2 separate regions of the Homo sapiens genome follow, and region 1 is linked to region 2. The links come from fine-mapping of genetic effects on gene expression. Tissue or cell type: spinal cord. Region 2 holds a variant in brackets; the other region holds the start of a gene. All regions are shown on one strand. Distances are from middle to middle.

Region 1 (5,381 bases), 21 kb before region 2:
GACTTATTGGTTGGCCGGGGGCGGTGGCTCATGCCTGTAATCCCAGCACTTTGGGAGGCTGAAGCGGGCAGATCAGAAGGTCAGAAGATCGAGACCATCCTGGCTAACACGGTGAAACCCCCGTCTCTACCAAAAATATAAAAAAATTTAGCCAGGTGTGGTGGCGGGCGCCTGTAGTCCCAGCTACTCGGGAGGCTGAGGCAGGAGAATTACTTGAGCCCGGGAGGAGGAGCTTGCAGTGAGCCGAGATCAGGCCACCGCACTCCAGCCTGGGCGACAGAGCGACTCCGTCTCAAAAAAAAAAAAAAAAAAAAAAAAAAGACTTATTGGCACACGGATGAACAAATAATAGTGAAAAAAACATAGAACCCAGAAACCAATGTAGGCAAATACGAAAAGCTGGTTTATAACAGATTTCTGGGCAGTGGCGTAGGTGAACTATTCATTAAATGGAGCTGGTGCCATTTGTATTTAAATGAAAAAAAAAAAATGGATCCCTTCTCCCTACCTTAGAGAAAAATAATTACAAGTGACTTAATACTTCTGTGTGAAATTCAAAACTCTATCATATTTTAAAAGGCAATATTAGATATCTTCATGAGTTGGAGTAGGGAATGATTTTTGTCAACAAGACCTCACATTTATAAAACATAAAGTACATTTTGATCAATTTGATTTCATTTAAAATAAAAACTCTTCAGTGAATGGTTCTTATATAACAAAAGCTACAAACCACAAACTAGGAGGAGATATATGAAAATACGTGCATCACACATAACTGACCAAACCACTTTTTCAGAAAAGGTAAAGCACTTCTTCATGCAAATAAAAACAGAACACAACCAATAGAAATACAAGGAAAACAATGAAAAGGTATTTCACAAAAGAGGCAACAAATGGCTCACAAACATGAGAACAATGTTCAAGTATATTAATAATCAGATAAAAGCAAATGAAAACAACAAAATACTTTTTCCAACTAATATTTGGTGACTACTTTAAAATGTCAACAACATCAGGAGTAGGCAGTAAGGTGCAGCTATGGGGATATTCAACTGTGCATGATGCTAATGTAATTAGTGAAACCACTTCTGAAGAGGCAACTGAAGTCACCTGTGCCTCAGGGACTCAGTCATTCCACTCAGGTAATCCAAAAGTCCTGTGGGCTCACTGATGTGTGCAAGAAGGTTCAAAACAGCATTGTTCATATTGGCAAAAACTGAGAAACCACCCAACCACCTATCACTGACAGAATGGATCATTAAATGGTGACCTAGTCATACATTTAAATACCGTGAGGCAAGACCTAGAAATGAACCGCAGCTATAACAAACTCGCATTGATTAATCTCAAAAACATAATAAGTGAAAAGAATCAAGTCACAGAATGATACACTATAATTCGAAAATGAGGAAAACAAAACATATCTCTTAGGGGAACATGTATCACCAGGAAAAATAAAAAGAAAATCGAAGGGAATGAAGTTCACTTCACAACTGGAAATTTATTTTGGTGGGAACCCCTGAGGATGCAACGGGCATGCTCTTATGGGTACATGAGTCTGCAAAGGTCCCCATCATGTCTGCTTCCCAATCTAGGTTCTGGACCACAGAGACTTGTGTTATGGTTACAGTAATTCCTTAAAGTTCTCATTATGTTTCTCTGCACTCCTTGATGTGTATATTTCAAAACCAGGATCATCACCATCGTAACACTGAACTCAGGATTCTTATAAGGAGGAACTAAAATGGTGATTGTAAAAGGATAGCTCCTAGGACACTGAGGTTTGGCGTGAACCCAGAAGATGACTGTAACGATTGTAGGGAAGCTGGAATAGCAGGAAAACCATGCCCAATGATGAAATCTCGACCTTGCGTCTAAAAAACTTAGCGCCTGTTCTGCCTACGCAGAAAGACAGTAGCCGATATCCATTAAGTTCTTCTTGCAGGCCAGGCACAGTGGCTCATGCCTGTAATCCCAGCACTTTGGGAGGCCGAGGCGGGCAGATCACTTGAGGTCAAGGGTTCGAGACCAGCCTGGCCAACATGGTGAAACCCTGTCTCTACTGAAAATACAAAAATTAGCCGAGGCCAGGCACAGTGGCTCATGCCTGTAATCCCGGCACTTTGGGAGGCCGAGGCGGGCAGATCACTTGAGGTCAAGGGTTCGAGACCAGCCTGGCCAACATGGTGAAACCCTGTCTCTACTGAAAATACAAAAATTAGCCGAGGCCAGGCACAGTGGCTCATGCCTGTAATTCCGGCACTTTGGGAGGCCGAGGCGGTCAGAACACTTGAGGTCAAGGGTTCGAGACCAGCCTGGCCAACATGGTGAAACCCTGTCTCTACTGAAAATACAAAAATTAGCCGAGGCCAGGCACAGTGGCTCATGCCTGTAATCCCAGCACTTCGGGAGGCCGAGGCGGGCAGATCACTTGAGGTCAAGGGTTCGAGACCAGCCTGGCCAACATGGCGAAAGCCCGTCTCTACTGAAAATACAAAAATTAGCCGGGCATGGTGGTGTGCATCTGTAATCCCAGCTACTCAGCAGGCTGAGGCAGGAGAATCTCTTGAACCCGGGAGGTGGAGGTTACAGTGGGCCGAGATGACGCCACTGCACTCCAGCCTGGGTGACCGAGTGAGACCGTATCTAATAATAATTAATAATTTCTTCTTGCACGACAGGTTTAGTTACGGCAGAAAGATGTTGTGCCACACGAACATTCTTCAAGGAGTTTAGCATGTAGGAAGGAATTAGACATTTAAATTATAAACAGAGTCACCCCAACTCTCCAAATGAACCATTTTGGAGAGACTGGAGGAGCATCCCTGCAGCCGTGAGCCCTGGGAATTCTCAATAGGAACCTCCAGCTTGAAATATCCCCCGCTCTATACGACACCAGGAGCAAAGGTCTAGAACAGCCCCTCAAGGGGCGGTGGGCGTTTCGCTTCACATATTTTCTGGATCTGTTCATCAAAAGCCCTCTGAGCCAATGGCAAGGGAGCAATTCGTTGGCCAATCAAATGGCACCACGGATCTTTTCTTCCCGCTTCCAGCCGCCAATCATTAAGGACCAGGAAGGCGTGGAGCGGTGAGTCAGCGCTTCGTGCTGGGCTGTTCGTCTCTTCTATGTGCTGATTTCCTGGGTTACTTTGGGTCTTCCTTTTCTTTCTCCCTTTTACCCTGTCTCCTTTCTTGAGGCTGATCGATCACAGCCAGGCCTCTCCATTCTATTTACCCAGCGTTTTCCTTCTCTCCAGTTAGTGGGGTAGATGAACGCCCTGTGTTTATAAGGTGCCTCCCAGGAGCCTGAGACCTGTGAGAAGAATGGGGGGTGGAGGTGGGGGAGACTCGTCACGAAGGGAGACCTTGGAGCTTCGAGGGTGGGAATGTTCTTATTAGATTCTTCATCTCTGTTGACACAAACATGTAGGAGAAGCTGGAGAACATAGACAGGGATGAGGTAAGGGGGGGGACTTCCCATGAAAGGTGGGACCCAAGCCCTCTCTGCTCTTGTGAGCTTGCTCTCTGACCTAGGGCAGAAACGTCTTTGATACTGTAATTCCAGAATGTGATTTAAAAAGAAAATCACACTTCTAGTTGACTCATACTAATTATGTATATTAGCTGCAGAGAGATGTGTTGGTACATGTATACGTATCATTAAATCAGGGTAATGAGCATATCCATCTCCTCATACCTGTATCATTTCTTTGTGTTAGGAACATTCAGAATCCTCTCCTTAGGTGGGAGGAGGGAGAGGGTCAGGAAAAGATAGCTATGGGGTCCTATTCTTAATACCTGGGAGATGAAAAACTGTACACCAAACCCCTGTGACACGAGTTTACCTGTATAACCAGTGTATATGTACCCCTGAACCTAACATAAAAGTTAGAAAAACCCTCGAAAATAATAAGATATTAAGTATATTCAACCTATAGTGCTACTGAACACCAGCACCTATTCCTACCTACAGGTGTAACTTGGTATCCATTAGCCAACCTCTTTTCATCCCCCTTCTCCAATTATGCCATTTGTTTAGACTATGAAACGTATATAGAAAGAATATTTATCTTTCTATATCAATAAAAGTTGGTTTTTACTGTTAAGGGTTGAATTGTGTCCCAACCCTAAAAACACACACACACACACAAAGTCCTAACCCCTTTATAGGGTGACAAAATAAGGTTGTTGCAGATGTAATTAGTTAAGGCGAGGTCATACTGGAGTGAGTGGCCCCCCTAACTTAATGACGGGTGTCCTTATGAAAACGGCCACATGCGGCTGGGTGTGGTGGCTCATGCCTGTAACACCAGCACTTTGGGAGGTTGAGGTGGGTGGATCATCTGAGCTCAGGAGTTTAAGACAAGCCTGGAAAACATGGCAAAACCCTGTCTCTACTAAAAATACAAAAATCAGCTGGGTATGGTGGCAGGTGCCTGTAATCCCAGCTACTCAGGAGGCTGAGGCAGGAGAATTGCCTGAACCCAGGAGGTGGAGATTGCAGTGTGCCGAGATTGCACCATTGCACTCCAGCCTGGGTGACAGAATGAGACTCGGTCTCAAGCTGGATGCAGTGGCTCACACCTATAATCCCAGCACTTTGGGAGGCCGAGGCGGGTGGATCACCCGAGGTTGGGGGTTCGAGACCAGCCTGACCAACATGGTGAAATACAAAAAATTAGCCAACTGTGGTGGCGCATGCCTGTAATCCCAGCTACTCAGGAGGCTGAGGCAGGAGGATTGCTTGAACCTGGGAGGCAGAGGTTGCAGTGAGCCAAGATTGCGCCATTGCATTCCAGCCTGGGCAACAAGAGTGAAACTCCATCTTAGAAAAAATGGCCACATGAAGGTAGAGACAAGCAGAATGGCATGTGACAAAGTCAGAGTGAAATTACATAGCTGCAAACCAAAGAGTGACACAGGTTGCCAGCAAACCACAGAAGCCAGTAAGAGGCAAGGAAGGGCTCCCCTGGGTTTCAGAGAGAGCAGCACCCTGCCAACACTTTGATTTTGGACATCTAGGCTCCAGAACCATGAGACAGTAGGTTTCTGTTTTAAGTTACCTAGTTTGTGGTACGTTGTCATGCCAGCCCAAGGAAGCTAGTACGCTATTAAAAGAAAAAAATGATGTGATTTTACACTTAGAGAACAGCTTCAAGAATATATCCTTAGGATCACCAAATGTTAAAAGTTTACCTTATATGGTGTCCCTCTACTCTTATATAAGTATTTTTCCTGATCTGTTCAAGATTTGTACACATTGTACAAATTTACATCTAATAATTTACCCTAAATGCTTCAGGGTTTATCTTCTAAAAATAAAAATAAAAGTAAGCTCTTTTGATAACCACACTATATAAAAAACAGGAAATTAATAG
Region 2 (5,381 bases):
CAGCCTCCGGAGTAGCTGGGATTATAAGGCGCTCACCACCACGCCCAGCTAGTTTTTATATTTTTAGTAGAGACGGGATTTTGCCATGTTGGCCAGGCTGGTGTTGAACTGCTGACCTCCGGTGATCCGCCCGCCTTGGCTTCCCAAAGGGCTAGGATTACAGGTGTGAACCACCACACCTGGCCACCCAGTCCAAATTTTTAAACAAATTCCCCCATGTTTCCTGGAGTGTTTTGGTGTCACACGCTGAGGTCTCAGCTACCCTGGAAGCTGAGGCAGGAGGATCACTTCAGCCCAGGAGGATGAGGCTGCAGTGAGCTGTGTTTGTGCCACTGCACTCCAGCCTGGGTAACAGAGTGAGACCCTGTCTCAAAAAAGTAATTTATATAAAGAAGAACATTCTTTGCACATGGAACCATTTTAGAATATTGCTAAAATAAAATGTAAGCAGGTCTAAAGTTAGATCTTCCACTGGGTACTTACACTTCTCTCTTTTCACAGTTGGTTTGAGGTTGTACCCACTTAATTCCCCTTATGAGCAACCAAACATGTCACCGAAATCTCCAGAACAGCTGAGAAGACCAGGAAAGCAGGAAGCCATTGGGGAATGGGCAAACAACTTAGCTTAAGATGCTAATAGGATCTTCACCAATGTCAGATGGCATTTTCACCAGTTAGGGACTTCAGGGGACTGAAAGATTGGGGGAATCCCTTGTTCTCCCCAAAAACTTAAGGTAGCATTACCTACTGTCAGCAGTCTGTGGGCACTGGATTATATCTTTCACCTGCATCCAATCAAATCCAGTAACTATTATGCGGGGCATAGGGAAAATTTCCCATCTACAACTGCCCCCTACATCTCCAGTCCATCAGCAGCTACTCACTTGCAGAATATAAACATCGTACTAGTTATTTAAGGAACAGATAACTGTAAAGGAGTTTTCGGCCTGGCTGAAGGATCAGCCTCTAGGCTGGTGCTCCAGAGATGACTGTAAGAACTATAGTATCAGGGAGCTGCTGCCTCTCCTGCAAAGAGGAAAGTGGGAGATGGGAAGCTCACTGTTAGAACTGTGGCTTTAGAAATACACCACGACAGCTATGATTCAGAAATCGGGAAGCTCACCAGTGTAGCAGCTGCTTAAAATCAATGACCACAGCAACTGGTTTTAGTTTTCGAGACAGTCTCGCTCTATTGCCAGGGCTAGATTACAGTGGTGCAATCTCTGCTCACTGCAACCTCCACCTCCCAGGTTCAAGCGATTCTTCTGCCCTGGCCTCCCGAGTAGCTGGGATTATAGGCCTGTACCACCACGCCCAGCTAATTTTTGTATTTTTAGTAGAGATGGGGTTTCACCATGTTGACCAGGCTGGTCTCGATCTCCTAGCCTGAAGTGATCTGCCTGCCTCAGCCTCCCAAAGTGCTGGGATTATAGGCGTGAGCCACTGCGCCCAGCCAACTACAGCAACTGGAGACAAGCCTTCTGTTACAGAAGAGTCCAGCGTCTGTGTGTTCATGGAAGCTGGCAGCAAAACAGGCAGAAGATAGACTCCACTCCCCTTCCCCTTCCAGTGTCATGAGAGTGAGGGCCAATCGCAGAACTTAATCTGTACCTTGATCTTAGCTACGAGGGGTTGTGGGATGCGTAGGGCTTGGTCATCACTGTTGCTGGATCTTTTTTTTTTTTTTTTTTTTTTGAGACGGAGCCTCCTTCTGTTGCCCACGTTAGAGTACAGCAGTGCCATCTCAGCTCACTGCAACCTCTGCCTCCCGGGTTCAAGCGATTCTCCTGCCTCAGCCTCCCAAGTAGCTGGGACTACAGGCACACACCACCACGCCCGGCTAATTTTTGTATTTTTAGTAGAGACAGGGTTTCACCATGTTGGCCAGGATGGTCTTGATCTCTTGACTTCATGATCTGCCCACCTTGGCCTCCCAAAGTTCTGGGATTACAGGCATGAACCACTGCCCCGGCCTGTTGTTGGATTTTTTGATTGGCTTTTCTTTTGAGAATTCTGCCATTGAAAGAAAGCTCACTGGCATAAAGTTGGAATGGATGCGAGGTGCCATTCTATCCTCTCTACTGCATCTCCTCTCTCTTCTGGAGGCAACTGCCTAGGTCAGGTCCTTTTTAGGTGGACTTTCAGATCTAGTCCCTATATGTGAAACCTATATGTGTATATAAATCCCTTGTTTATGCAAATTGAGTACATGCTATAGACACCGTCCTGTTGCTTATCCATATGAAGAGATTATTCCATACTTTTAATATTTGTATAATAGCTTGTGTCTCATAAATTATTTAACTGGTCTTGATAGTCATATAGCTATTTTCCATTTATTTTGCTATCATCGTAGCAATGAATACCTGTGTATGTGTCTATTGAAAGCAGAAGTTGTCAAACTTTACATAGTAGCAATGAATGTATATGTGTGTGTGTGTGTCTATTGAAAGCAGAAGTTGTCAAACTTTACGTAGTAGCAATGAATGTGTGTGTGTGTGTGTGTGTGTGTGTGTGTGTCTATTGAAAGCAGAAGTTGTCAACCTTTTTGTGTAGAGGACCATATGGTTTCCATTTTAGGCTTTGTGAGTCATACGGTCTCTCATA[G/T]CTGTTCAGCTCTGCTATTCAATCAGGAAGGCTCCTGTAGACAATATACCCGTGAATGGTGTAGTGAGTTCTAATGAAACTTTATTTACAAGAGGAGACTGACCAGGTTTGGCCTGGGGGCCACAGTGTGTAGACCCCTGGAAAGATACATCCTGAGAAGAAAAAAAGAATATATGCAGGAATGCTTAACTTTGTGGGTTTTCTCTCCTCTTGCCCTCACTGACTCAGGATACACAAAGACCTATCAAGCTCACGCAAAGCAGAAATTCAGCCGCTTATGGTCCAGCAAGTCTGTCACTGAGATTCACCTATACTTTGAGGAGGAAGTCAAGCAAGAAGAATGTGACCATTTGGACCGCCTTTTTGCTCCCAAGGAAGCTGGGAAACAGCCACGTACAGTGATCATTCAAGGACCACAAGGAATTGGAAAAACGACACTCCTGATGAAGCTGATGATGGCCTGGTCGGACAACAAGATCTTTCGGGATAGGTTCCTGTACACGTTCTATTTCTGCTGCAGAGAACTGAGGGAGTTGCCGCCAACGAGTTTGGCTGACTTGATTTCCAGAGAGTGGCCTGACCCCGCTGCTCCTATAACAGAGATCGTGTCTCAACCGGAGAGACTCTTGTTCGTCATCGACAGCTTCGAAGAGCTGCAGGGCGGCTTGAACGAACCCGATTCGGATCTGTGTGGTGACTTGATGGAGAAACGGCCGGTGCAGGTGCTTCTGAGCAGTTTGCTGAGGAAGAAGATGCTCCCGGAGGCCTCCCTGCTCATCGCTATCAAACCCGTGTGCCCGAAGGAGCTCCGGGATCAGGTGACGATCTCAGAAATCTACCAGCCCCGGGGATTCAACGAGAGTGATAGGTTAGTGTATTTCTGCTGTTTCTTCAAAGACCCGAAAAGAGCCATGGAAGCCTTCAATCTTGTAAGAGAAAGTGAACAGCTGTTTTCCATATGCCAAATCCCGCTCCTCTGCTGGATCCTGTGTACCAGTCTGAAGCAAGAGATGCAGAAAGGAAAAGACCTGGCCCTGACCTGCCAGAGCACTACCTCTGTGTACTCCTCTTTCGTCTTTAACCTGTTCACACCTGAGGGTGCCGAGGGCCCGACTCCGCAAACCCAGCACCAGCTGAAGGCCCTGTGCTCCCTGGCTGCAGAGGGTATGTGGACAGACACATTTGAGTTTTGTGAAGACGACCTCCGGAGAAATGGGGTTGTTGACGCTGACATCCCTGCGCTGCTGGGCACCAAGATACTTCTGAAGTACGGGGAGCGTGAGAGCTCCTACGTGTTCCTCCACGTGTGTATCCAGGAGTTCTGTGCCGCCTTGTTCTATTTGCTCAAGAGCCACCTTGATCATCCTCACCCAGCTGTGAGATGTGTACAGGAATTGCTAGTTGCCAATTTTGAAAAAGCAAGGAGAGCACATTGGATTTTTTTGGGGTGTTTTCTAACTGGCCTTTTAAATAAAAAGGAACAAGAAAAACTGGATGCGTTTTTTGGCTTCCAACTGTCCCAAGAGATAAAGCAGCAAATTCACCAGTGCCTGAAGAGCTTAGGGGAGCGTGGCAATCCTCAGGGACAGGTGGATTCCTTGGCGATATTTTACTGTCTCTTTGAAATGCAGGATCCTGCCTTTGTGAAGCAGGCAGTGAACCTCCTCCAAGAAGCTAACTTTCATATTATTGACAACGTGGACTTGGTGGTTTCTGCCTACTGCTTAAAATACTGCTCCAGCTTGAGGAAACTCTGTTTTTCCGTTCAAAATGTCTTTAAGAAAGAGGATGAACACAGCTCTACGTGAGTCCATCCTATGACTTTTTCTCTCTTCTCAGAATCTGTCTGTATTCCCAAGTGGGTTTTGCTGAGGGAGTGTTTAATATAGGATCATGGTTAGAAACTCATTTTTTCTGCCACAAAACCTCAGCTCACATCCTGGCCCAACATTTTAGGAGCTCTTAGACTTTGTCTGTGAGCCTTGCCCTTTTGTGGCTGCAGTGGCCCCATTACAGAAGGGGGAATAATAATTGTATTGTGAGGAGTGAATATGAGGACCTGTGTGAAGAGTGTTTCCTACTTTCTCAAGTATTAGCTGATCAGTACTATAATCGATATTTTTCCATAGCACCACACTCCCTGTGTCTTGACCTCTCAGCTGCAAGTTACCTTTGAAAACTTAGTCTAAAAAATCATACAGCCCGGGTGTGGTGGCTCATGCCTGTAACCCTACCACTGTGGGAGGCTGAGGCAGGTGGATCACTTAAGGTCAGGAGTTCGAGACTAGCCTGACCAACATGGTGACACCTCGTCTCCACTAAAAATACAAAAATTAGCCGGGTGTGTAGCGCACACCTGTAATCCCAGCTACTTGGGAGGCTGAGGCCGGAGAATCACTTGAGCCCGGGAGGCAGAGGTTGCAGTGAGCTGAGATCGCACCACTGCCCTCCAGGCTGGGTGACAGTGAGACTCTCATCTCCAAAAAAAAAAAAAAAAAAAAAAAAAACAAAACACAAATCATACAAATTTTCTTCTTGTTCTTTTTTTTTTTTTTTCTGAAATGGAGTTTTGCTTTGTCACCCAGGCTGGAGTGCAGTGGCGAGATCTTGGCTCACTGCAAGCTCCGCCTCCCAGGTTCACGCCATTCTCCTGCCTCGGCCTCCCGAATAGCTGGGACTAGAGGGGCCCGCCACCACACCCAGCTAATTTTTTGTGTTTTTAGTAGAGACAGGGTTTCACCGTGTTGGCCAGGATGGTCTCGATCTCCTGACCT

The links.
Region 1: NLRP4 starts here. The variant in region 2 is fine-mapped to the expression of NLRP4 in spinal cord (GTEx, PIP 0.95).

What each region holds. Positions count from the first base shown.
Region 1 is chr19:55,833,472-55,838,852 of GRCh38, forward strand. It overlaps NLRP4 (NLR family pyrin domain containing 4), which reads left to right and starts at 3,069. Exons shown (of 10, transcript NM_134444.5): 1 at 3,069-3,463. It also overlaps a transcript of NLRP11 not described here.
Region 2 is chr19:55,854,839-55,860,219 of GRCh38, forward strand. It overlaps NLRP4 (NLR family pyrin domain containing 4), which reads left to right. Exons shown (of 10, transcript NM_134444.5): 3 at 2,836-4,411. Among named protein-coding and RNA genes, the nearest start is that of NLRP4, 21 kb to the left of the region's middle. The variant G/T (reference allele first, on the strand shown) is at 2,608.